Linked DNA regions of Homo sapiens. The protein of the gene in region 1 interacts with the protein of each later gene in a biochemical or structural test. Each region holds a gene or a part of one and is shown on either strand. Other genes may lie near its edges. The genes, in order: CRYBA1 and CRYAA.

Region 1 (9,961 bases):
GTCCTACCATCTTCACTGTCTACCTAACCTCTTTGAGCCTCAGTATCCTCATCTGTAAAATGGGGATAATGATAATTCTTAATTCATAGTCTGTATGTGAAGATTAAATGCATGAATGCATGTAAAGCATTTAAAACAGGGCCGGACATGTAGATAGCCATTTTTGAGTGTAAGTATTATAACTCTTTTCTTCTTCACTTTCCTTCAATAAGTCTTTTTCAATGTCCCCCTGATCCCTCATCTCCACATGTGCTCAGCACGATGCTATACCAATCCCCTAGAAGACCGAGGCCTTGCCATTGAGGTGCTCACCAGGACATCCAACCAGAACACAGATTGGTACTGTGATGAGTGCTATAAATCAAGAAAGCAAGCAAGTGGCTGTGGGCTGGAGAAGGCAGGAAAGCCTCTGAGAAGGCAAGGTCAAGGCTGGGTAGGATCTAGGAGATAGAAAAGCAGAAAGGAATGGCCAGGCGCCGTGGCTCATGCCTGTAATCGCAGCACTTTGGGAGGCCAAGGCGGGCAGATCACCTGAGGTCGGGAGTTCAAGACCAGCCTGACCAACAGGGAGAAACCCCGTCTCTACTAAAAATACAAAATTAGCCGGGCGTGGTGGCACATGCCTGTAATCCCAGCTACTAGGGAGGCTGAGACAGGAGAATCGCTTGAACCTGGGAGGCGGAGGTTGCGGTGAGCCGAGATTGCGCCATTGCACTCCAGCCTGGGCAACAAGAGTGAAACTCTATCTCAAAAAAAAAAAAAGAAAAAGAAAAGCAGAAAGAGGCCAGATAAGGATGAGACCGTGAAGGGTTACGAGGGAGTCTGGGGCTTGGGATCCTGGCATGGCTGGCTGTTTGGCCAGTCACATGAGGGGTCTGGCCTAGGTGGTTGCCAAAGAGTTTATATTGCAGACAGAGGTAATGCTGTCACCTGAAAGCAAGTGAGAGGACAGGGTCTCAGTGCTTTACCTGCATTATTGTTTCTGATCCTTGTTTTTTTTCTTTTTTTTTTTTTTGAGATGGAGTCTCACTCTGTTGCCCAAGCTGGAGTGCAGTGGCACGATCTCAGCTCACTGCAACCTCTGCCTCCCGGGTTCAAGCGATTCTCCTGCCTCAGCCTCCCGAGTAGCTGGGACTACAGGCGTGTGCCATCATACCCGGCTAATTTTTGTATTTTTAGTAGAGACGGGGTTTCACCACGTTGGCCAGGCTGGTCTCAAACTCCCGACCTCAGGTGATCCGCCCGCTTTGGCCTCCCAAAGTGCTGGGATTACAGGCGTGAACCACCGTGCCCGGCCTATTATTTCTGATCCTTACAATAACTGCATGTCGAAGCTTTACCAATGGAAAAACTGAGGCTCAGGCTGGGCGCGGTGGATCACTTGAGGTCAGGAGTTTGGGACCAGCCTGGCCAACATGGTGAAACCCCCATCTCTACTAAAAATACAAAAACTAGCTGGACATAGTGGTGCATGCCTGTAGTCCCAGCTACATGGGAGGCTGAGGCGGAAGGATCACTTGAGCCCAGGAGGCAGAGGTTGCAGTGAAGTGAGATTGTGCCACTGCACTCCAGCCTGGATGACAGAGAAAGACCCTGTCTCAAAATAGCAACAACAACAACAACAAACCCCGAGGCACAGCTAGTGAGCAGCAGAGCCAGAATTTCAACCAAAGTCTGTCTTGCAGACTTCAAGTCTCCTTTACCTTTCAAGGCATTCCCTCACCTCCCCCTCCTCCCAAGAGGCCACATCATTCGTGTGTGCTCTGTCTTCCAGAAACCCTTCCAACCACCAAGATGGCTCAGACCAACCCTACGCCGGGGTCCCTGGGGCCATGGAAGGTAAGCCCACCCCCATCACATCCAACAGGGCAGGGGTGACATGCTGCACAGAGCAGGCCCCAGGCCTGTGCTCGTCCATAAGGCAGTGACTGACCAGAAAAACCCCAGTTTGTAGGGGAAAGGTCCACACAAGCTCCAGTGCTGTCGAAGGAAGGATCTCTCAGGATGTCCCACTGGACAAAGGAAGGATGACTGTGGATGCCATTGATGGGTGGGAGATGATACCTAGTTTCCTAACTCCTCTCTCCTCCCCACTAAAGTCATCTTAAAATACAGCAGCCCAGCAACAGTTATGTCCATGGAGAAAATGAGGGCCCATAAAGATATTTACTACTAGATCCCAAATAAATTACAGGACTCAGCCTCCCATCCTGAGGTTGGCTTTAACCATTGGCCGAAGTGGCTGATCCTCAGGCCTCTCACTGGCCTCTCTCCAACACTCCCCACTCTCCTCATTGGGTCAACTCTGAGGCCAGCTCACAGCTTTGCGAGTGGTCCTCTGGCCAGGTCCACGAGCCAGGTTTTAGTTCAATGTACAAAAAGGGTTGACCATAACTCTCCTTTACACTCTAGGTTTCTATAGGGGGTATGGCTGGAGAAGCTAAGAATCTATAAGGAGCTCCTGGGACTCCCAGAATCCTGGCCTCTGGGCCATGCTTATGAAGGAACTGTGGTGGAATGGGAGCCCATAAGTCCTTGGCCTGTCCATTGGTCTAGATATTATCCCTGGCAGACCATTTCTATCATAAACCAATCCTCCCTCCACCTCATCCCTACTCTGGGCAAATGAACACCAACCAGTGGCATTAATTCAAACCCCTTCCTGCCCTGTCTACACTGGAAGAGACCTCATCAGGCATCCCAGGCTACAGCTGGTAACAGAAAGCACAGAGTCAGACTGAAGTTAAGCTGTTGACCTGGACCTCTGTTTTTCCTGATGTTCTAGCTCTCTTGCGCCATTCAATCTCATTTCAGATAACCATCTATGATCAGGAGAACTTTCAGGGCAAGAGGATGGAGTTCACCAGCTCCTGTCCAAATGTCTCTGAGCGCAGTTTTGATAATGTCCGGTCCCTGAAGGTGGAAAGTGGCGCGTGAGTATGGACTTCCGCAGAACCGCAGCCCCTTATTTCAGGTCCCTTCAGACAGGGGACCATAGAGTGGGGATAGGGGAAGAAGGATGTTCCCCTAGGCTCTAGTCATTTCTCGGAGACAGGCCTCGAAAGAAATCACTACATGCATAATTTAGTAAGCCAAAGCTAGAAGGAAGGAACATGAGGTTCTTAGTGGCTTGGTACTAGATTTCAGGGGCTGGATAAAGAAATACATACAATGGGGTGGGACAGTGGCAGTAATCAAAATTTTGCTTCTGGAGCTCACAGGCTGCTACCTAGGGTGCCCTCAGAACAGCCACAAGACCCTTGAGTTTTTCTTGCCTGCAGAAAATTGGTAGAGAAGAAAGTGTCAAGTGGCTGCCTCTTCATGGCTAACTCTCCTCCTGCATATCCCAGAGCAGACACTGTTAGCTAATTTCTTTATGAAAAAAAAAACCTTAACCCCACGACTCCAGAGACATATTAGCTCCTGATTCATCTTTCAGGCAGTTTCTTGTTGATGGTTAATCTTGGTGAGGGAGACCCTCTCATTTTTGTCCTCTGACTCTTGGCAGAGTAGTTGAGGCCTTTATCATTAGCCTGAAAATACCTAAGGAAAAGACTCACCCTTGACTAGGCAGAATTGGCCTTGCATGTGGATAGGCTTCCACAAGTTGCTTGCCACCAAAATTAAGCTCTTCAGTCCTTTAAAAGATGTAACACTTTAAGGTGTCATCACTAACTGAGACCCAGTTGTGAAAAACTGAGCTGAGTGTTTCAAGTTTTAAGTACAGGTATGGGGCACTAGGAGAAAGAACTCGCAAGTCACAGGAAGAAAAAAGACTAGTAATCCATCAGTTGCTTGTTCATCCCTGTGCTTTCTTAAGAAGAAGCCAACAGGTTTGGCTTGAGCCAAAGCAATAGTCCAGGGGTGTCTAATCTTTTTGGCTTCCCTAGGCCACACTGAAAGAATTGTCTTGGGCCACATATAAAATACCATAACGATAGCTGATGACCTAACAACAACAAAAACAACTCATAATGTTTTGAGGAAGTTTACAAATTTGTGTTGGGCTGCGTTCAAAGCTGTCCTGAGCTGCATGCAGCCCTTGGGCAACAGGTTGGACAAGCTTGCAACAGTCACTAGATCCTGAAACAGGTAGAGAATAGGTGATTTGGAGAAAAAGAAAAAAAAATTTTTTTTTTTTTTGAGGCAAGGTGTCACTCTGTTGCCCAGGCTGGAGTGCAGTGGCACAATCATGGCTCACTGCAGCCTCCACCTCCAAGGCTCAACCCTCAGCCCCCTGAATAGCTGGGACTGCCAGTAGTGGGTCACCACGCCTGGCTAATTTTTGAGTTTTGTAGACGGGGTTTCGCCATGTTTCCCAGGCTGGTCTCCAACTCATGGGCTCAAGCGATCTGCTTGCCTTGGCCTCCTGAAGCGTTGGAACTACAGGCGTGAGACACCACACCCAGCCAGGAAATATAATTTTAGATTGGCTTTGCTAATACACTTCACTCAGACCAGTGAAGTAGATAGACCTTTTCAGTGATAACCCCCAAACAAATATTACATTCACTAACCTGCTTAGTATACCTGTCAACTCATTCCTCAACTCTTGTGACAAATTACTTTGTACAGCTCTACTGGGATTGGCTTGATATTTTACCCCACTATTGACTTATCTAAAACGAAAGATGCCTTCTCCCCAAGGCCATATAGGCTTTGAACACCATGAACAAACACTACATGTCTTTGGCAGCTGGATTGGTTATGAGCATACCAGCTTCTGTGGGCAACAGTTTATCCTGGAGAGAGGAGAATACCCTCGCTGGGATGCCTGGAGTGGGAGTAATGCCTACCACATTGAGCGTCTCATGTCCTTCCGCCCCATCTGTTCAGCTGTGAGTCTCTGAAATTTCCACTTCCGTGCATATGAGGGATGGGACAAGAGGGTGTGGACAGACTGACGTTCATGCTATTTATCATCAGTTATGCTGAATGTGGCAGGAAAAAAGACAAAAGTAAAAAAAGAGAAAACATCACTTTCTTCTCTAAGCCTGCTATTTGATTTTTCTCCACCAGGTGGTACTTCCCTTAAGCTAAAACTAAGGGTCTTACAAGTGGCAATAAGTGGATACTCAAGAGCCCAGTAAACTTGTGAAACACTAGTAAATGAGTGAAAGTGCTTACCCTGCAGCAAAAAGTAAATCCTTGGCCAGTTAAATTTCAATCTGTGTAACATTTTTACTGCAGAAACAGGAAAATGCTGAAGTAACCTTTCAGTAAGTGGGAATGACTGACGAAATAGGCAAGTCTTCCAGTATCGATCTACACTGATTGATAATAATCTTCTTGTTCTGAACACTTAAGTATTACTCAATAATGCATCAGGCTGGGATGTTTCTGGTCTTTGGAAACAGTTCAAGCAGAAAGCAGAATGACCTTAAGGGGTGTGTTGAAAATGATCCCTGTATTAGGAGTTAGGTTGGGCTAGAACCTTTCCAAATATTCAGTCTATGTGAGAGTTTCTCGTGATTTTGGTTAATAATCTCATCTTGGTTCAAAGTCTTGCCAAAATTCAACTGGTGGAGAAGTTAACCTAAATAGTTCTAATCCAAATAAATAGTTGCCTGTCTGGAAATTATTTCAATCTCACTTTTAAAAACATTTCATTTGCCCACCCTAAGGTATAACTGACATACAGTAAAATGCACAGACCCTAAGTGAATATTCTCATGAGTTTTTGAAAAATATATAGATCCATGTAACCAACACCCTAACCATATAAAGAACATTCCATCATAGTTCCCTGGTGTCCCTTTCCACTCAATTGCTCCCCTACCACTTTCTATTACCAAACAGTTTTGTCCATTTTTGAAGTTCATACAGGTTAGTCTCTGTCTTTTTAATGCTTGTGTAGTATTCATGTCCCCTACTGGACATACAGGTTATATCCAACAACACACATACACACGCAAGCGCACACATACATATTTGGGCTTACTTTTTGTAATAATCTGTGAGATCTTTTTTCACATTAGTGAATATTAATCCCTTGGTTGGCTGCATTTTGTTAGTACTTTTTCTCACTGTCAAATCCTCTTCATTGTTCCAAAATAGTATATCAGTTATTTGTACATTCAAAATGTTATGGTATTTAAATTGGAATAAACAAAATTATGGGTAACTTTTTTCTCACAAATCTGTTGCCTTAATCTTTTTAAATTATCATGTGCTTCCTTGTATAATCCAAAAGTGTTTCAATTTTGAAAAACATGAAGAATGATAGCCATAGCACTAGTACTAAACATTTTAAAACAATTTCTGAATTACAGAATCATAAGGAGTCTAAGATGACCATCTTTGAGAAGGAAAACTTTATTGGACGCCAGTGGGAGATCTCTGACGACTACCCCTCCTTGCAAGCCATGGGCTGGTTCAACAACGAAGTCGGCTCCATGAAGATACAAAGTGGGGCGTAAGTACAAAAACAGGGTTGGAATATACTTCAAAGTAACTCCTGAGGTTGCATCAATAGTTATGTTTTAATCAGATTTCATACGTATCGGTATAGATGTCACATTCTAGTTCTACATAATTTTGAATCTCAATTTCTTTATACCAACTACCACTTTAGGTTGCAGATTTATCTCCCCCAGACATGCCTCTATGGAAGAATTTACGTTGACTACTTATACCTGTTTTGATGATTAAGGCTAATTAACTAGCTATAGCCATATTATGCTTACAAATAGTGCCTGACACATTTAGGATGGCTATTTTTTCTAAGCCTAAAAGCATCTCATACCATTGTGTTGAGTAAAGAGGCTCAGGTTTTGGGGTATTAACCAGATTCCTAATTAGTTTTAATAATGAAATGTACTTTGAATTTCCTAGCTGGGTTTGCTACCAATATCCTGGATATCGTGGGTATCAGTATATCTTGGAATGTGACCATCATGGAGGAGACTATAAACATTGGAGAGAGTGGGGCTCTCATGCCCAGACTTCGCAGATCCAATCGATTCGCCGAATCCAACAGTAGCTGATTAAAAGCTCCAAGTACGATAATTCCTCAAGCATGAGACCTTGCTAAGCACTCTAGAATAAGTTTTATGTTCTGCTCACAGACATTGCTTTCAAATGTTAGCTGCTGAAATCCACAATAAACGTCATTTAAAAAAAAAAAACTTTGTAGACTGAATTAACTACCATGCTTCACATAAATCACACCTAAGTGGATGAGAATTTTTTTTTTTTTTTTAGTTATTTTGCTCTTGTTGCTCAGGCTGGAGTGTAATGGCGCTATCTTGGTTCACCACAACCTTCGCCTCCCGGGTTCAAGTGATTCTCTGCCTCAGCCTCCCGAGTAGCTGGGATTACAGGCATGCACCACCACACCTGGCTAATTTTGTATTTTTAGTAGAGACGGGGTTTCTCCATGTTGGTCAGGCTGGTCTCGAACTCCCGACCTTAGGTGATCTGCCCGCCTCGGCCTCCCGAAGTGCGGGATTACCGGCGTGAGCCACCACGCCCGGCCTGTGGATGAGAATTTTTGTTGTTGTTGAGACAGGGTCTCACTGTCACCCAGGCTGAAGTGCAGTGGTGCGATCTGGCTTACTGCAGCGTCATTCTCCTGGGCTCAAGTGATCCTGCCTCAGCCTCCTGAGTAGTTGGGACTACAGGTGCCTGCCACTATGCCTGGCTAATTTTTGTACTTTTTGTAGAGATGAGGTCTCACTATGTTGCCCAGGCTGGTCTCGAATTCTTGGGCTCAAGTGATCCACCCACTGTGGCTTCCCAAAGTGCTGGGATTACAGGTGTTGAGCCACTGCGCCTGTCTGGATGAGAATTTTTTAAGTCAAGCTTCCATAAAACTCCACATTCTCTTTTGTGTCCTTGCAAGTCACTCACCAGGCCAAGGACAATTATTCCTTATCTCAAAGAACAATAAAGCATATGACCTAAATGTTATCAATCTCTATAGCGACTGACACTTTTGGTAAATGTTTTTATGTCCTTTCCTCCCGTCTCCTGCTCTTTCTAATAATGTTGAAGTTGGCATTGATTTTCCTTTCACCTTGTGACAAATCAGTACTAAAGAAACAGGAAGTTTCTCCAGTGTGTACTGCCACATATTTCAACATAAAGTTATGAATAAATCCAGAATCTTGGCAACTTAACATTCTAGTTGCTCAACTGCTTAGCTCAATTTTGATTTATTTCAATTGGAAGGGCATAAGGCTTAATGTCCTGCAAAAAGGCAGGATAGCTCTGGATTTTTCAATAAGCAAGCTAATTCTAAGCACTGTAAAAACCTGTATGATTAAAAAATTTTTTTAAAATCATAGGACCATAGTATACTGAAGACTTAAATTCTTCACATATTTGACCCTTTGGAAAAAAATCATTATCAATGTCACAAACTTAGTTTTCGGTTTGTTTTTCTTTTTACTTTTTATCAGCTGAATTTAAGATTAGTCAGTAAAGACTTTTTAAAAAATTAAAGCACACAAAAGATAACAAACACCTCAGAAACTTTAAAATTTTTTATTCAACAATGTACACTTATTGTCTCTCAATTTGATCTACAAATTTCTCAAGTTTTTTTTCTGATAAAATAAGTAAATCTGGGTATGGTTGTAGAGTGTTTGTAATTTATATTTTTAAAACACTGAACATGATGAAGACATCAATAAAGGAAGATCATCACGTAAATGACACTTCCTCAGAATCCATGACATCAGAAACAGCTATAGCAAATACCTAAGCATTTAGCAAAAGGGAAAATTTCTGGTGACTGTTCTTATATGTAGAAAAGACCTATATTTTTGACTGGGCAAAACAAACATTGAAACTTTTTTTTGAGCGGGGGGAACATCCTTTAACATAACTGTACTCCACTTATTATCCATTCCCCCAGATTAAGAGGTAACTCAGCTCCTTAGTGCCTCTGCACGAGACAGAGAAATTACTTCACTCCTCCAGTAGGTTCTAAGACTGAACATAAGTGAACTACTGACAGATGCGGAAGAGGAACCATAGCCATCTAAAATGATGCTTGCTACACTCCTGCATTTCTGCCTTTTAAGGCCATGCAATTAATATGGGTCACCTTTTAAGTCTTAACTGGATAACTTAGTTTTTAACTGCCACTATCAATGAAGATACATATAGAAGGGTTTTGCTGTGTCCTCAAAGGCAACAATATACTTGATGAAGAAGTAACCCTCTTCTGTATATTGAAAAAGCTATAAAATGGAAATATTTATTTTTTATGTAGGAGCATGGGGAAAATGCTATCAGTAATATCTTCTACTTAAACATATTAGCCTCTCCTACAAAGGTCCTGAACCAATTAAAAAAAAAAAAACTTTAAAAAAGATGATTTGACAAAACCTGGGTAGTAGTACATCTACACATTATAAGTACACATACACAAAGTAAAGCTATTTAGTACATACAGATTGCAGCACTTGAACCAAATGTACCCAACTCCTAAACTTGTTCTAATCAGCTTGGGCAATTTTTTAAAAGATACACGTTATCTTTAAAACAACCAGTGCTTTGATCTTACAAACAACTGAATAATTCTAATCTCAAGCCAGTCAATTCAGTAAACCAAATTTATGCTAAAGCAATAAAGGTAAAAGCCTATCCTACCTTTAAACCAGCTTTAAGACAAAAAATCGTCACCAAGTTCCATATGACAAAAAAGGGTCTTTCAGTTTGAATTACTTTCCATTTCTATTTGATCAAATAAACCAAAATATTACTAAGGAAGAGCATCCAATGATTTGTAAAGCTGATAAAACTGCCCTGTTTCAAGAAAAGCTCTTTAATAGATACAAGTCAAGCTCTCGTTTAAATTGAACTTTATTAAAATAGGTGCCAGTTTTCCTCTCTCCTAGTTCCACTGATGAGCTAGCCCAGAACTATGTAACTTTGAGCCAAGTTTCCAAAGATGGTAAAGCTAACAACAGCAAAGTAGTAAGGACAAATCGGTCACTTTTGGTAATGACAC
Region 2 (12,316 bases), on another chromosome or scaffold:
CTTCCGTGCCAGGCTGCCTGGAGAGGCCAGCCTCTTCCCGGAGGGGTCCTTGGGGCCTACTGGGCAGACCTCTCTCTCCACGGCCCTTCCTGTCCCTAGGCGGACCTTTCCCTGACCCAGCTCACACCAGCCTGGGGCCTGTGTGCTGGGGCCGGGCTCCTGCAGGCTGTCCCGGGCAGGCGCCAGGGGGCCCTGTGCCACTGGGCGGTGGTGTGGGAGGCACAGGAAGAAGCTTACCTCACCCTTCAGACATCCTGGGGGGTACCCTTGTTTCCTATATCATTTCAACCTTGGGGTCCCAGCATTGCTGGCGACGAGGCCGGCTGCAGGTTTTGGCTCAGAGGCAGACTGAGGGCAGCGCCAAAGGGCTCCAGGCCTCCCGAAACAGCCTCGGTCTGCTCACACTTGGAGGGCTGTCAGAGGCCACTGGACGCCAGCAAGAAGGTTGAGGAGCCCCAGGCCGGCGGTGCCCCCAAGGTATCTGACACCAGAGTGAGTCACAGTTTTGAATATTCCATCCTCCATACCGCAAAATTATTTTCAGGATAGTTATGTAATAATCACGGATAATCATGATTTTCTTGATTCATTCTTTAAAGCAATTAACAGAAAAAGAATGCATTTCAATGTTAAAGATATTCAAATTCAGTGACTTCTTTCATGCATGAGCTAACATCTCAGCTTCAGCACCACATCTCCGTTTTCGCTCTGGTTTCACAGTCTCACATTTGAAACACAGAATAAAAACACCAAGAGGTCATGCAGAATGACAGAACTGAAATACTTCCAGCTCGGTTTCTTTGTGAGTGCTGTTGTTGTTATGTGAAATTTCTCGTTTAAGCACAGAAATATGTTGAACCACGGGCTGGAGATGAGAACCCCTCCCCCAGTGCACCTGCACCCGCCCTTCAAAGCCGCTCCAAGCCAATGCAGGTGGCTGCGTCTGCAGTGTCGGGAGTGGCCCCATGACTGGAAGTTCACTGGAAAATTTCCACTCAGTAAATGTTTAGAACAAGAAATAAAACTGTGCTAATGTGAAGATTACAGAAATATAGTCTATCCTCATGACTCATGCATTCCAGATTTGGGAATTCCCTGTGATGTCAGTGTGCCAGGGACCACAGACTGGATGGCTTAAACAACAGACATTTGTTGTCTCACAGTCCTGGAGCCTGGAAGTCCAAGATCGCAGGGTCGGTGGGGCCGGTTCCTTCCTGTGCTTGCAGACGGGCCTCTTCTTGTTGTGCCCTCATGTGGACTTTCCTCTGTGTGCATGTGTTCTTGGTGTCTCTTTTTGGAATTTGTCCAGATTTCCTCCTCTTTTTTTTTTTTTTTTTTAAGACAGAGTGAGACTCTGTCGCCAGGCAGGAGTGCAGTGGTGCAATCTCGGCTCACTGCAGCCTCCGTTTTCCGGGTTCAAGTGATTCTCCTGCCTCAGCCTCCCGAGTAGCTGGGACTACAGGTGCATGCCACCATGCCTGGCTATTTTTTTGTATTTTAGTAGAGACGGGGTTTCACCATGTTGTCCAGGCTGGTCTTGAACTCCTGACCTCGTGATCCACCCGCCTTGGCCTCCCAAAGTGTTGGGATTACAGGCGTGAGCCACCGCGCCCAGCTGATTTCCTCTTCTTATAAGGAAGCCAGTCACATGCATTAGGGCTCACCCAAATGACCTCCTTTTAACTTAATTTCCTGAGAGATCCTATCTCCAAATACAGTCACACTCTGAGGTCCTGGGGTTAGTACTTCAACACAGGAATTTTTTGGGAACTCAGTTCAGTCCATGACACCTACTTGGTCAAATTTATTTGTAGGCTGGGCACGGTGGCTCACGCCTGTAATCCCAGCACCTCTGGAGGCCAAGGTGGGAGGATCGCTTGAGCCTAGGAGTTCAAGACCAGCCTGGGCAACATAGCAAGCAAGACCCCGTCCCTACAAAAAAATTACCAAAAAAATTTATTTGTGACCCCAAATCAATAATTGCAGAGTTTTCCTGGTCATTCACAGATGTGTAGAGAGTGCCGAGACATTTGTCTCCTTACACATATTCCTGGGTGAGGTTGAACAAGGCAGCACTATGCCCTCTTGTTTCAGCCTCAGGCGGTCAACCAGTATCCTTTTTGAGGTCTATTTAGTGCCATGATTTTTGCATTTCGTGTGTTTTGTTTGTGATTTTGCTTTTTAAAACGTCCCCAAGCCCAGTGCTGAAGAGCTGTGTGCTTGGAGGCATTTTTAAGTAAGTGGATTAAGCACTTCAGTTAAAATGCAGAAATTGTCCAAACAGATTAAAAACATTATCTAATTATATGCTGTCTACAAGAGACACTTTAGATTCAAAGACACAAATAGTTTGAAAGTAAAAGATTTCTAAAAATATGCCATACAAATGGAAACCCAAAGACAGTTTTGGTTACTGTTTGGTTACTCTTCAGCTTTGTGCTTGGGGGCATTTTAAACAGCAAAATCACGAACAAAACACACAAAACTGCAAAAGGTAAGCAAGCTGCAGTGCATCTCACAGAGGAAACACGGGTTAGAGAAGCTTCCTTCGGGCAGAGCTACAGGGCTGCTGGCCATGAGTTCAGTGTTAGTGAATCAATGTTTATAGATTCAGTAAAGCATCTTTTTTTTTTTTTTCTTTTTTGGAACAGAGTCTCATTCTGTTGCCCAGTCTGAAGTGCAGTGGCACGATCTCAGCTCACTGCAACCTCCACCTCCTGGGTTCAAGCGATTCTCCTGCCTCAGCCTCCCAAGTAGCTGGGATTACAGGCCTGCACCATCACGCCTGGCTAATTTTAGTATTTTTAATAGAAATGGGGTTTCACCATTTTGGCTAGGCTGATCTTGAACTCCTGGCCTCAGGTGATACACCCGCCTTGGCCTCCCAAAGTGCTGGGATTACAGGCGTGAGCCACCACGCCTGGCCTCAGTAAAGCATCTGTACACAGAAACACTCATAAGACAAATGATGCATTGCTCAGCTGATGAGAACATTGGGGCCAGAGGCTCGCAGGACCCTAAGCCTGTGTCTCCCCTGGGAGCCATGGTTCAGCAGTCCAGGCATCACTAATTCAGTGCTCACAGCAGCTTTATAGAACACCCCTACCTCTAGAAACAACTGCTATGAATGCAGCAATTGCTAGAACTTAGCCCAGCAAAAGGGGATTTTGTGCTGACATGATTTGCATGGACAGTGGCTGGGAATCAGGAAAAGAACACTGACTTGTCTTTGGTTTCATTCTGGTTTTTCATTTTCCGCAGACATCATATCCCTCAGTGCACTGGCTGTCACCTCCCCCTGCCCGCCACCTGCACACTGTGGCTTTGAGGCAGCATCTTCAACACAAATTTCAGGAGGAGCCCAGGTCCAGAGCAAAAGGGTCTTGTTTCCCCAGAATCCAGGCGAATGGCGCAGGGCTCTGGCAGGCGGATGCACTGACATCAGCGTGCATTTACTTGTTTGTTGCTTGTCTCTACCCAAGAGAATATCAGCTCCAGAAAAGCAGGGACTTTGTTTAACACAGCGTTAAGAGACAGGACTCGACCAGTGTGGATCAATTAAGTGAGGATGTTTGCACAGCAGGCTCCGGGCCAGCGAGTGGGGGTTAAGGCTCCTGAAAGTAGCCGGCTTTGAGATGTGGTGGGGGTGATCCTGAATTATCCAGGTGGGCTGAGAGCGTAATTGCCAGGTGGATGTGATGGGAGAGACCTCACCGCCCACCACTGCCTTTGAAGGTGGAGGAGGGGCCACGAGCCAAGAAAGGCAGGTGCCTTGAGATGCCAGAGAAGGCAAGAAACAGACTCCCCTGAGCCTCCAGCAGGAGCCAGCCCTGCCAGTGTCTTGCTTTAAGTTGAATGAGACACATTTCAGACTTGTGGCCTCCAGAACTGTGAGAGAAGACGTTTGTGTTGTTTTAAGCCACTAAGTCTGTGATTGGTACATCAGCCACAAGACACTAATACAACACCTAAACTCGGGGTTTGAAAAGGCCCCTAGGGCCCTAGAGCCCTCCCTGCCCCCGGTCCAGGCCTTCCTGCTTCTGTTGTGCAGACTCAGGCGCTGGCTCACTCAGAAGCCCCCTGCAGGCCCGGCCAATCCTGTGGCAGAGCCTCGACGTCCCACGGCGGCCTCTGAGCCGCCAGGCCCTACAGCGTGTGGTGAGGGGCGCAAGAGGTGTGAGTGCCTGGACCTTGCTCTGCCCCGTGTCTGAGGACCTTGCCCTGCCCCGTGTCTGAGGACCTTGCCCCATCCTCGGCACCCAGAGCTGTGCAGTCCATAGGACCAGGCTGGTGCCCAGCCCCAGGTTGGTGCCTCAGCTGCCTCCTCAGCCTGCAGTCTCCACTGTTTGACTGACCATGTGCAGGGCCAGCTGTGAAGGACAGCACAGCTCCTCCCTCCCTGCCAAGTGTCAGGGGCACTAAAAACACTGCCATCAATGTTCTGATGTTTAAATCATGTTTTGATGCAATGTTTAAACAAATCAAAATGGGTCGGGCGCAGTGGCTCACGCCTGTAATCCCATCACTCTGGGAGGCCGAAGCGAGTGGATCACCAGAGATCAGGAGTTCGAGACCAGCCTGGCCAACACGGCGAAACCTCATCTCTACTAAAAATATAAAAATTAGCTGGGTGTAGTGGTGTGTGCCTGTAATCTCAGCTACTTGGGAGGCTGAGGCAGGAGAATCGTTTGAACCCGGGAGGCAGAGGTTGCAGTGAGCTGAGATTGTGCCACTGCACTCCAGCCTGGGCGACAGAGCGAGACTCCATCTCAAAAATAAATAAATAAAATAAATAAGTAAATCAAAATGAATGCAAAAAATTTGTGGTGGACAAACTGTCAACATTTTACATAAAGCCAGGATGAGGACGACGGCCTTCTCCTTTTGCTTCAAGCTCCAGCATGGCTCTGCCCAGCACTGACCGTGCTCCTGGCCTGGCTCGACCCTCCCCAGGGCCAAGCTCCATGCTGGTTTCCATCCCAAAGGACTCTTCTTCCCCCTCCCTGTGCCCCGGGAATAGGCAGCCAGCACAGTGGGGCCGCCCGCTGCCTCACCCAGACCCTGCCACTGCTTGGATGTTGACCCCCAGACTGGAAAGGTGGCTTTAAACCCCCTTCCCTTCTTCCAAGCCAAGTGACCTGGGCGTGCGGCTTAACCTTCTAAGCTCCCATTTCCTGGTCTATGAAGCGGGAATGATGCTGGGACCTGCTTCACAGGGTGGCTCTGAGGACCCACAGGCAGAGAGGTCTGGTGTAGGCTTTCGGGGGAAGCACCCATCACTCTCCCAGCGTTTCCTATCTGCACCTTAATTTGGCACCCCAGGGAATCGCTCCTCTGGAATTGTAACCTTGCAGGGCAAAAGCTATCATTTCAAGATTTTTTGGGATCCTGTGTCCCCGGACAGTGCTGTAAATGTAGGAGGAAGGGTGCTGCTCATGGGTGCTGCTCATGATGGAGGTGCCCCGTGGAGCACGCCTCGGAGCCCCCCCTTTCATCCCTGATCCCATCTGGGATGTGTCAGGTCTGATCCGCATACACTGGGGCATCTGACATTTCATGGCCTTCTGAGCCCATGGGCTGGAGATGAATTTGCAAAGCCCGGGAGTGTCCTGGGTGTGTGTTCACTCCACACGCACGAATCTGTTAGAGGCTGAGTAGGAACTAGGAGGCCAAAGAGAACCAGGCAACTTCCCACAGCCTGGACCGTACACTAGAAAAGCTAGCCTGGGAGAGGGGGCATGGCCTCTTCCCAGGCTGGCAGGGGGGATGTGGGGGAGGACCATGCTCCCCAGGGCCAGTTTACCAAAATATCAAAATACCAAAATATCAAAAGACTTAAAACTAGGAGTGAGCCAGGTGCAGTGGCTCACGCCTGTAATCCTACACTTTGAGAGGCCAAGGCAGGTGGGTCACCTGAGGTCAAGAGTTTGAGACCAGCCTGGCCAACACGGTGAAACCCTGTCTCTACTAAAAATACAAAAATAATAATAATAATAATAATAATAATAATTAGCCAGGTGTGGTGGCAGGCACCTGCAGTCTCAGCTACTCAGGAGGCTGAGGTGGGAGAATTGTTTGAACCTGGGAGGCAGAGGTTGCAGTGAGCTGAGATCGCGCCACTATATGATCTGGGCGCCACTCTGGGTGACACAGCAAGACTCCATCTCAAAAACAAACAAACAAAACCGGGAGTGCCTGGACACTTAGTGAGAACTGGACAGGGGCCATGGGTCGAGGAGCAAAATAATCACCAGGACTTGTGGATAACAGGATCATGTGGGTGGTGGGTCCGCATGGGTGACAGGGACGTGGGGACATGTCGCCACCCTGACAGGAGCAGCCCAACTCAACAGCCACGGCAGGTCATGCCACGGAGGCTCGAGGCGTTACGTGGGGATGTTACATCAAGGCATTACATCATTACGAGATGTAACGCTCGAGGCGTTACATCGAGGGGACGATGGCCATGGGGCTGGGCGTCCAGGGTGGGCCGCAGAGGGAAGCTCACCACGTGGTGCTCTCATCTGCCCACAGCCCAGCCCGTCTTCCTGTTGGAGGCATGTGACCCCTGGAGGACAAGCATGAAACGCCATAGGGCTCCCCCAGGTGCTGGAATTATGGCACCTTGCAGCTTCTTCTCCACGAGTTTTAACAAGCATGCGTACTTTTGTAAGTGGTGAGTGTAACGGAGGTTCACAGATGCACTCCGCTTTGGAAACCAGTGCACTCTTGCCCAGGCCCGGTGAGACTCTGAGGACGATGTGTCTAACCTCTGTGTCTAACGGGGGTGTGTGCTCTCCCTCCTCTGGCGACCATGAGGACCACCCCGGCAGGACAAGGTGTGCAGAGAACTAGCATGGTCCCTGGCACGTAGCCCCTGCCCAGTGACTGGCAGATGAGAAGCTCCATTGTCGCCCCAGGCGAGTATGGGGCACAGGCGCCTCCTTGGGTTGTCTGCCCTCCCGGGAGCCCCAGGGTGCCCAGGCGGGCCTCAGCTGAGTCCAGGCCTCGGGGACAGTCCGTGCAGCCCCTCCTGGGGCTGGGGGCGGGCACTTGTCCCAGCCACGTTTCTGCTGACTGAGCAGCCTTCTTCATGAGCTCACGCCTTTCCAGAGAAATCCCTTAATGCCTCCATTCTGCTGGTGGCATATATAGGGAGGGCTCGGCCTTGGCTCCACACTGCGCTGCCCAGAGGCCCCGCTGACTCCTGCCAGCCTCCAGGTCCCCGTGGTACCAAAGCTGAACATGGACGTGACCATCCAGCACCCCTGGTTCAAGCGCACCCTGGGGCCCTTCTACCCCAGCCGGCTGTTCGACCAGTTTTTCGGCGAGGGCCTTTTTGAGTATGACCTGCTGCCCTTCCTGTCGTCCACCATCAGCCCCTACTACCGCCAGTCCCTCTTCCGCACCGTGCTGGACTCCGGCATCTCTGAGGTAAGACGTGGCCCGTGGTGCTGGCCTCTCCTCGCTGCTCAGAGGGTGGTGGCCTCGGTGGGTGGAGAGCGATGGACTCTGGTCTTGCTCCGTCAGGCAGGTGGCCTCGTCCCACTTCATCCCCTTGCAGAGGCTGGGCGAGAGCCTGTGTCCCCACTGCAGCCACGTGGCAGAGCTTCCCCTGGCACTGGGGAGAGGGTGGACAAGGGAGCAGCCTGAATCCACCTTTGCTTTCCTCCATCAGCTCATGACCCATGTGTGCTTTGTAAGGCACCAGCCACATACTGGAAACCCCAAGAGCAGCCCATCCAGGCATGCGTGGTGGCGAATGCCAGCTCCCGGGTTCCTCTGGTCTCCTGAGTCCCGGAGACCTGGGAGCAGGTGGGGGTCATAGTCCTGAAAGCCAGAGAGCAGGGCGTTCCTAGCACCTCCTCCAATGAGCTCGGCCTGCCCACGGCTAGCAAAGCTCTTGGCAAGTTTACTTAGGTGCCCTGCCAAGGCTAAAAGGACAGGCAATGGACGCCCCCCCCCCCACCCAACCACAGGCCTCCTCTCTGAGCCACGGGTGAGCGGTGCAGGTTCTGCTGTTCTGGAGGGCCTGAGTCCCACCCAGCACCTCATAAACAGGGTCCTCCCCAGGGCTGCTGCAGTAGGCATCAACGCCAGGGTGCAAAATGCCTCAGGGAGCCAAGGCTGAGCCAGGGGAGTGAGAAGGAGCATGTGGAAGTGCGTTTTGGAGAGGCAGCTGCGCAGGCTGTCAGCAGGCTCCGGCCGCTTCTATAGACAGCATGACACCAAGGGCAGTGACCTCATTCCACAGGCTGAGTCCAGCCAGCCAGCCAAGCATCACCAGCCAGACGATTGACCCTAACGGACCAACCAACCCGTAACGACCCCTCCTACCATAACCAGTAGCCAGCCAGCCCATAACCAGCCAACTTATCTATAACCAGCCACCTGACCATAGCCAAACAACCAGCCGGCCCACCAGTAGCATTCAGCCCCTCAGCTGGCCCTGAGGGTTTGGAGACAGGTCGAGGGTCATGCCTGTCTGTCCAGGAGACAGTCACAGGCCCCCGAAAGCTCTGCCCCACTTGGTGTGTGGGAGAAGAGGCCGGCAGGTGACCGAAGCATCTCTGTTCTGATAACCGGGACCCGCCCTGTCTCTGCCAACCCCAGCAGGGACGGCACCCTCTGGGCAGCTCCACATGGCACGTTTGGATTTCAGGTTCGATCCGACCGGGACAAGTTCGTCATCTTCCTCGATGTGAAGCACTTCTCCCCGGAGGACCTCACCGTGAAGGTGCAGGACGACTTTGTGGAGATCCACGGAAAGCACAACGAGCGCCAGGTGAGCCCAGGCACTGAGAGGTGGGAGAGGGGGGCGAGTTGGGCGCGAGGACAAGGGGGTCACGGCGGGCACGACCGGGCCTGCACACCTGCACCATGCCTTCAACCCTGGGAGAGGGACGCTCTCCAGGGGACCCCGAATCAGGCCTGGCTTTTCCCCAAGGGAGGGGCCGTGCCCACCTGAGCACAGCCAGCCCCTCCCGGTGACAGAGGTCACCATTCCCGAGCTAATGTGGCTCAGGGATCCAGGTTAGGGTCCCTTCCCGGGCTGCACCCAGCCGTCGCCAGCTCCATCCCTGTCACCTGGATGCCAGGGTGGTCTTAGAAAGAACCCCAGGAAGTGGGAGTGCCCCGGGTGGCCGCCTCCTAGCCAGTGTACATCTTCACATGAACCCTACCTGAGGAAGCCAGTCCCCGACGGCATAGCTGCATCCGCTTGGAATGCTTTACAGGCATTGACACCTTCGCCTCACAGCAGCACTTTGGAACCAGTGTCCTCATTATTCCAGGGCACGGCTGGGGAACAAGGGGGTCCTCAGCCTGCTGGGTCCCACAGCTAGTACCGGGCAGGTGGACGGGAGCTTCTCCCCACAGTCACCCTGATGCCCCGCTCTTGCTCGGCTGGAGGCCTCGGATCTCCGTGGTGTTGAGGGAGCCGGGGCACTGGAGCCCTGGTGACCTGCATCTCCTGGCGGAGCCGGGAAGAGCTCATGGACTGTCACAGATGGACAGTGCCCCGCGGGGGCTGGAGAGCAGAGTGGGGCTGGAAGGTGGAACTCTTAGCCAAAGTCTTGGTTTCTTTTGGCCAGGGTCCTCTTTCAATGGCTGGAGAAGGTGGTGCTGGGGGGTGAACGCTGACCTCCTCATGTGCTGCCCCTCCCTCGCCTGGGCCCGGTAAAGCCCCCACGTAGCCCCAGCCAGCCTGGAACATGCTTCCTGAGCTCCCAGCTCTTGGTCTTTGCACCCAGTGGAGGAGGAGGTCAGCCCAGGGAGCTGAGTCTGCGGTTTAGGGCGTCCAGGGGACGTGGAAGCATGTGGGTCGTCTGGCCACATTAGGTAGGGCTGCAGAGACCTGGGCTAGAGCAGTCCTGCGGGGTCTGGAAGGGGAAGACTGGCTGAGGTGCGGGGCCTGGTCTGGAATGATCCTGCGATTTTGGAGTGAAGCCATGGAGCGGGAAGAGACAACCCCCCGCGGGGAATAGCCCGGCAAGTGGCCACGAGGCCAGGCTGAGGTCCAGAGAAGCAGGGGCATGAATCCATAAATCCCAGGGGGCCTGGCCATGGGATGTGCTGGCTGCACCCGGCCCCTGTGAGAGCCCCCGCAGGCTGGCCCCCTTCTGCAGTCAGTGGGGCTGGGGCAGCTTCTCTGGCATGGGGCGAGGCAGCCGCCTGCACAGTGGCCCCCCTGACTGTGCGCCCCCACCCTCTCCAGGACGACCACGGCTACATTTCCCGTGAGTTCCACCGCCGCTACCGCCTGCCGTCCAACGTGGACCAGTCGGCCCTCTCTTGCTCCCTGTCTGCCGATGGCATGCTGACCTTCTGTGGCCCCAAGATCCAGACTGGCCTGGATGCCACCCACGCCGAGCGAGCCATCCCCGTGTCGCGGGAGGAGAAGCCCACCTCGGCTCCCTCGTCCTAAGCAGGCATTGCCTCGGCTGGCTCCCCTGCAGCCCTGGCCCATCATGGGGGGAGCACCCTGAGGGCGGGGTGTCTGTCTTCCTTTGCTTCCCTTTTTTCCTTTCCACCTTCTCACATGGAATGAGGGTTTGAGAGAGCAGCCAGGAGAGCTTAGGGTCTCAGGGTGTCCCAGACCCCGACACCGGCCAGTGGCGGAAGTGACCGCACCTCACACTCCTTTAGATAGCAGCCTGGCTCCCCTGGGGTGCAGGCGCCTCAACTCTGCTGAGGGTCCAGAAGGAGGGGGTGACCTCCGGCCAGGTGCCTCCTGACACACCTGCAGCCTCCCTCCGCGGCGGGCCCTGCCCACACCTCCTGGGGCGCGTGAGGCCCGTGGGGCCGGGGCTTCTGTGCACCTGGGCTCTCGCGGCCTCTTCTCTCAGACCGTCTTCCTCCAACCCCTCTATGTAGTGCCGCTCTTGGGGACATGGGTCGCCCATGAGAGCGCAGCCCGCGGCAATCAATAAACAGCAGGTGATACAAGCAACCCGCCGTCTGCTGGTGCTGTCTCCATCAGGGGCGCGAGGGGCAGGAGGGCGGCGCCGGGAGGGAGGACAGCGGGGTCTCCTGCTCGCGTTGGACCCGGTGGCCTCGGAACGATGGGGTCGCCTGCGTCCCTTCCTTCTCCTGAGCTCAAGCGCCTCCCTCCACACTGGGCTGGAAGGAGAGGTTTTGGGGGCAGAGCCTCTGATGGGAAAGGGACTGGGGAGCACTTCCGAGAGCTGGGGGCGGGGAGGGACCTGGAAGGGGCTGCAGGGAATGGAGGGAGGCCGGGCTCCTTTCTCTGTCCGCGCCGGCACCGGGGCGGGACGCCAGCCCTGGCCTCCTTCTGCGGGGCCGTCCGGTTCTCTCGGGGTCTGCTGGGTCGTCCTGTTCTCTCGGGGGTCCTGCTGCCTTCGGGGCTGGGCTTTAAGGGCACTCGTGCTTTTGAGGAGGTGGAACTCGGCAGCTTCCCCTGGGCAACCCATCATGGCCCCGAGCTGGAGGCGGAAGCTCGCTCTGTCCCCTCCCGGGACCAGACACTGGGCGGCCATGCCAGACCCCGCCACGGGGAGGGAGACTCGGCCTGGGGGGCCCTGGCTGCCTGCTGCGCTCACCGAGGGGCATCCGGGGGGCCAGAGGGCACCCAAGGGGAAGCAGACGCCACGGCGGGTGGGCCCTGCCAGCGCCCTCAGCCAAGTAAAGCGCCCTCGACCCCGGAGGCCGAAGGCACCGGGACCCTGAGGCACTGGGACCCCCATGGCACCAGCAGGACGACCACAGGGGCGCAGCCTCCACCCGGGAGAACACAGACACTGACACCAACGGGTTTTCAAAAAGTCAGCAACAGGCATTAGCGTGGGCGGCCATAGTGACGCCCAGTGACATCACGTGCCACGGACACTGAACAGCACACACACCACACACTCCACACACACACACCACACACTCCACACACAACACACTCCACACACACCACAGACACACACACACCCCTCAACACACCATGCCCTTTGTCTCTCTTTGTATTCCTCTGGCCAGGCCGTGGTGTGACGGGTTCTGAGTCCTGGGAGTGGCTCCCCTAGACTCCCCCCCTCCTCCTCCCTCCAGCAGGACCTGCCCGGCTGTTGTGCCATCGAGTCCCCATTTGTACAGAAGGGGGTGCCCTGTGGTTGGCAACAACATGACCCACTGTGCTTTGGGGCTGCGGCTGGATGTTTTTGAAAATCGGGGTGTCTGGGGCTCCCTGCTCCTCCTGGGTCTGTCCCGGACCAGCTGAGCGGACACCTTTGCTCTGCACAGCCTGGCAGCCATTGCAGGGAGGCGGGCCCACCCCAACATCTGGTAGCTCCGGGTCCCGTCCCACCGGCTG

Evidence for each region.
Region 2: the proteins of CRYBA1 (region 1) and CRYAA form a complex in vitro, tested with the Homo sapiens proteins (2 studies listed by BioGRID).

What each region holds. Positions count from the first base shown.
Region 1 is NC_000017.11:29,247,368-29,257,328, forward strand, and holds the end of CRYBA1 (beta-crystallin A3), read left to right. Parts: intron 1-1,774; coding exon 1,775-1,839; intron 1,840-2,814; coding exon 2,815-2,933; intron 2,934-4,696; coding exon 4,697-4,838; intron 4,839-6,272; coding exon 6,273-6,415; intron 6,416-6,834; coding exon 6,835-6,982; 3' UTR 6,983-7,127; downstream 7,128-9,961. UniProt on the Homo sapiens protein: Crystallins are the dominant structural components of the vertebrate eye lens.
Region 2 is NC_000021.9:43,161,855-43,174,170, forward strand, and holds CRYAA (alpha-crystallin A chain), read left to right. Parts: upstream 1-7,153; 5' UTR 7,154-7,245; coding exon 7,246-7,434; intron 7,435-8,381; exon of another isoform or gene 8,382-8,477; coding exon of another isoform or gene 8,478-8,555; intron 8,556-8,662; coding exon 8,663-8,785; intron 8,786-9,182; exon of another isoform or gene 9,183-9,728; intron 9,729-10,216; coding exon 10,217-10,426; 3' UTR 10,427-10,951; downstream 10,952-12,316. UniProt on the Homo sapiens protein: Contributes to the transparency and refractive index of the lens. In its oxidized form (absence of intramolecular disulfide bond), acts as a chaperone, preventing aggregation of various proteins under a wide range of stress conditions.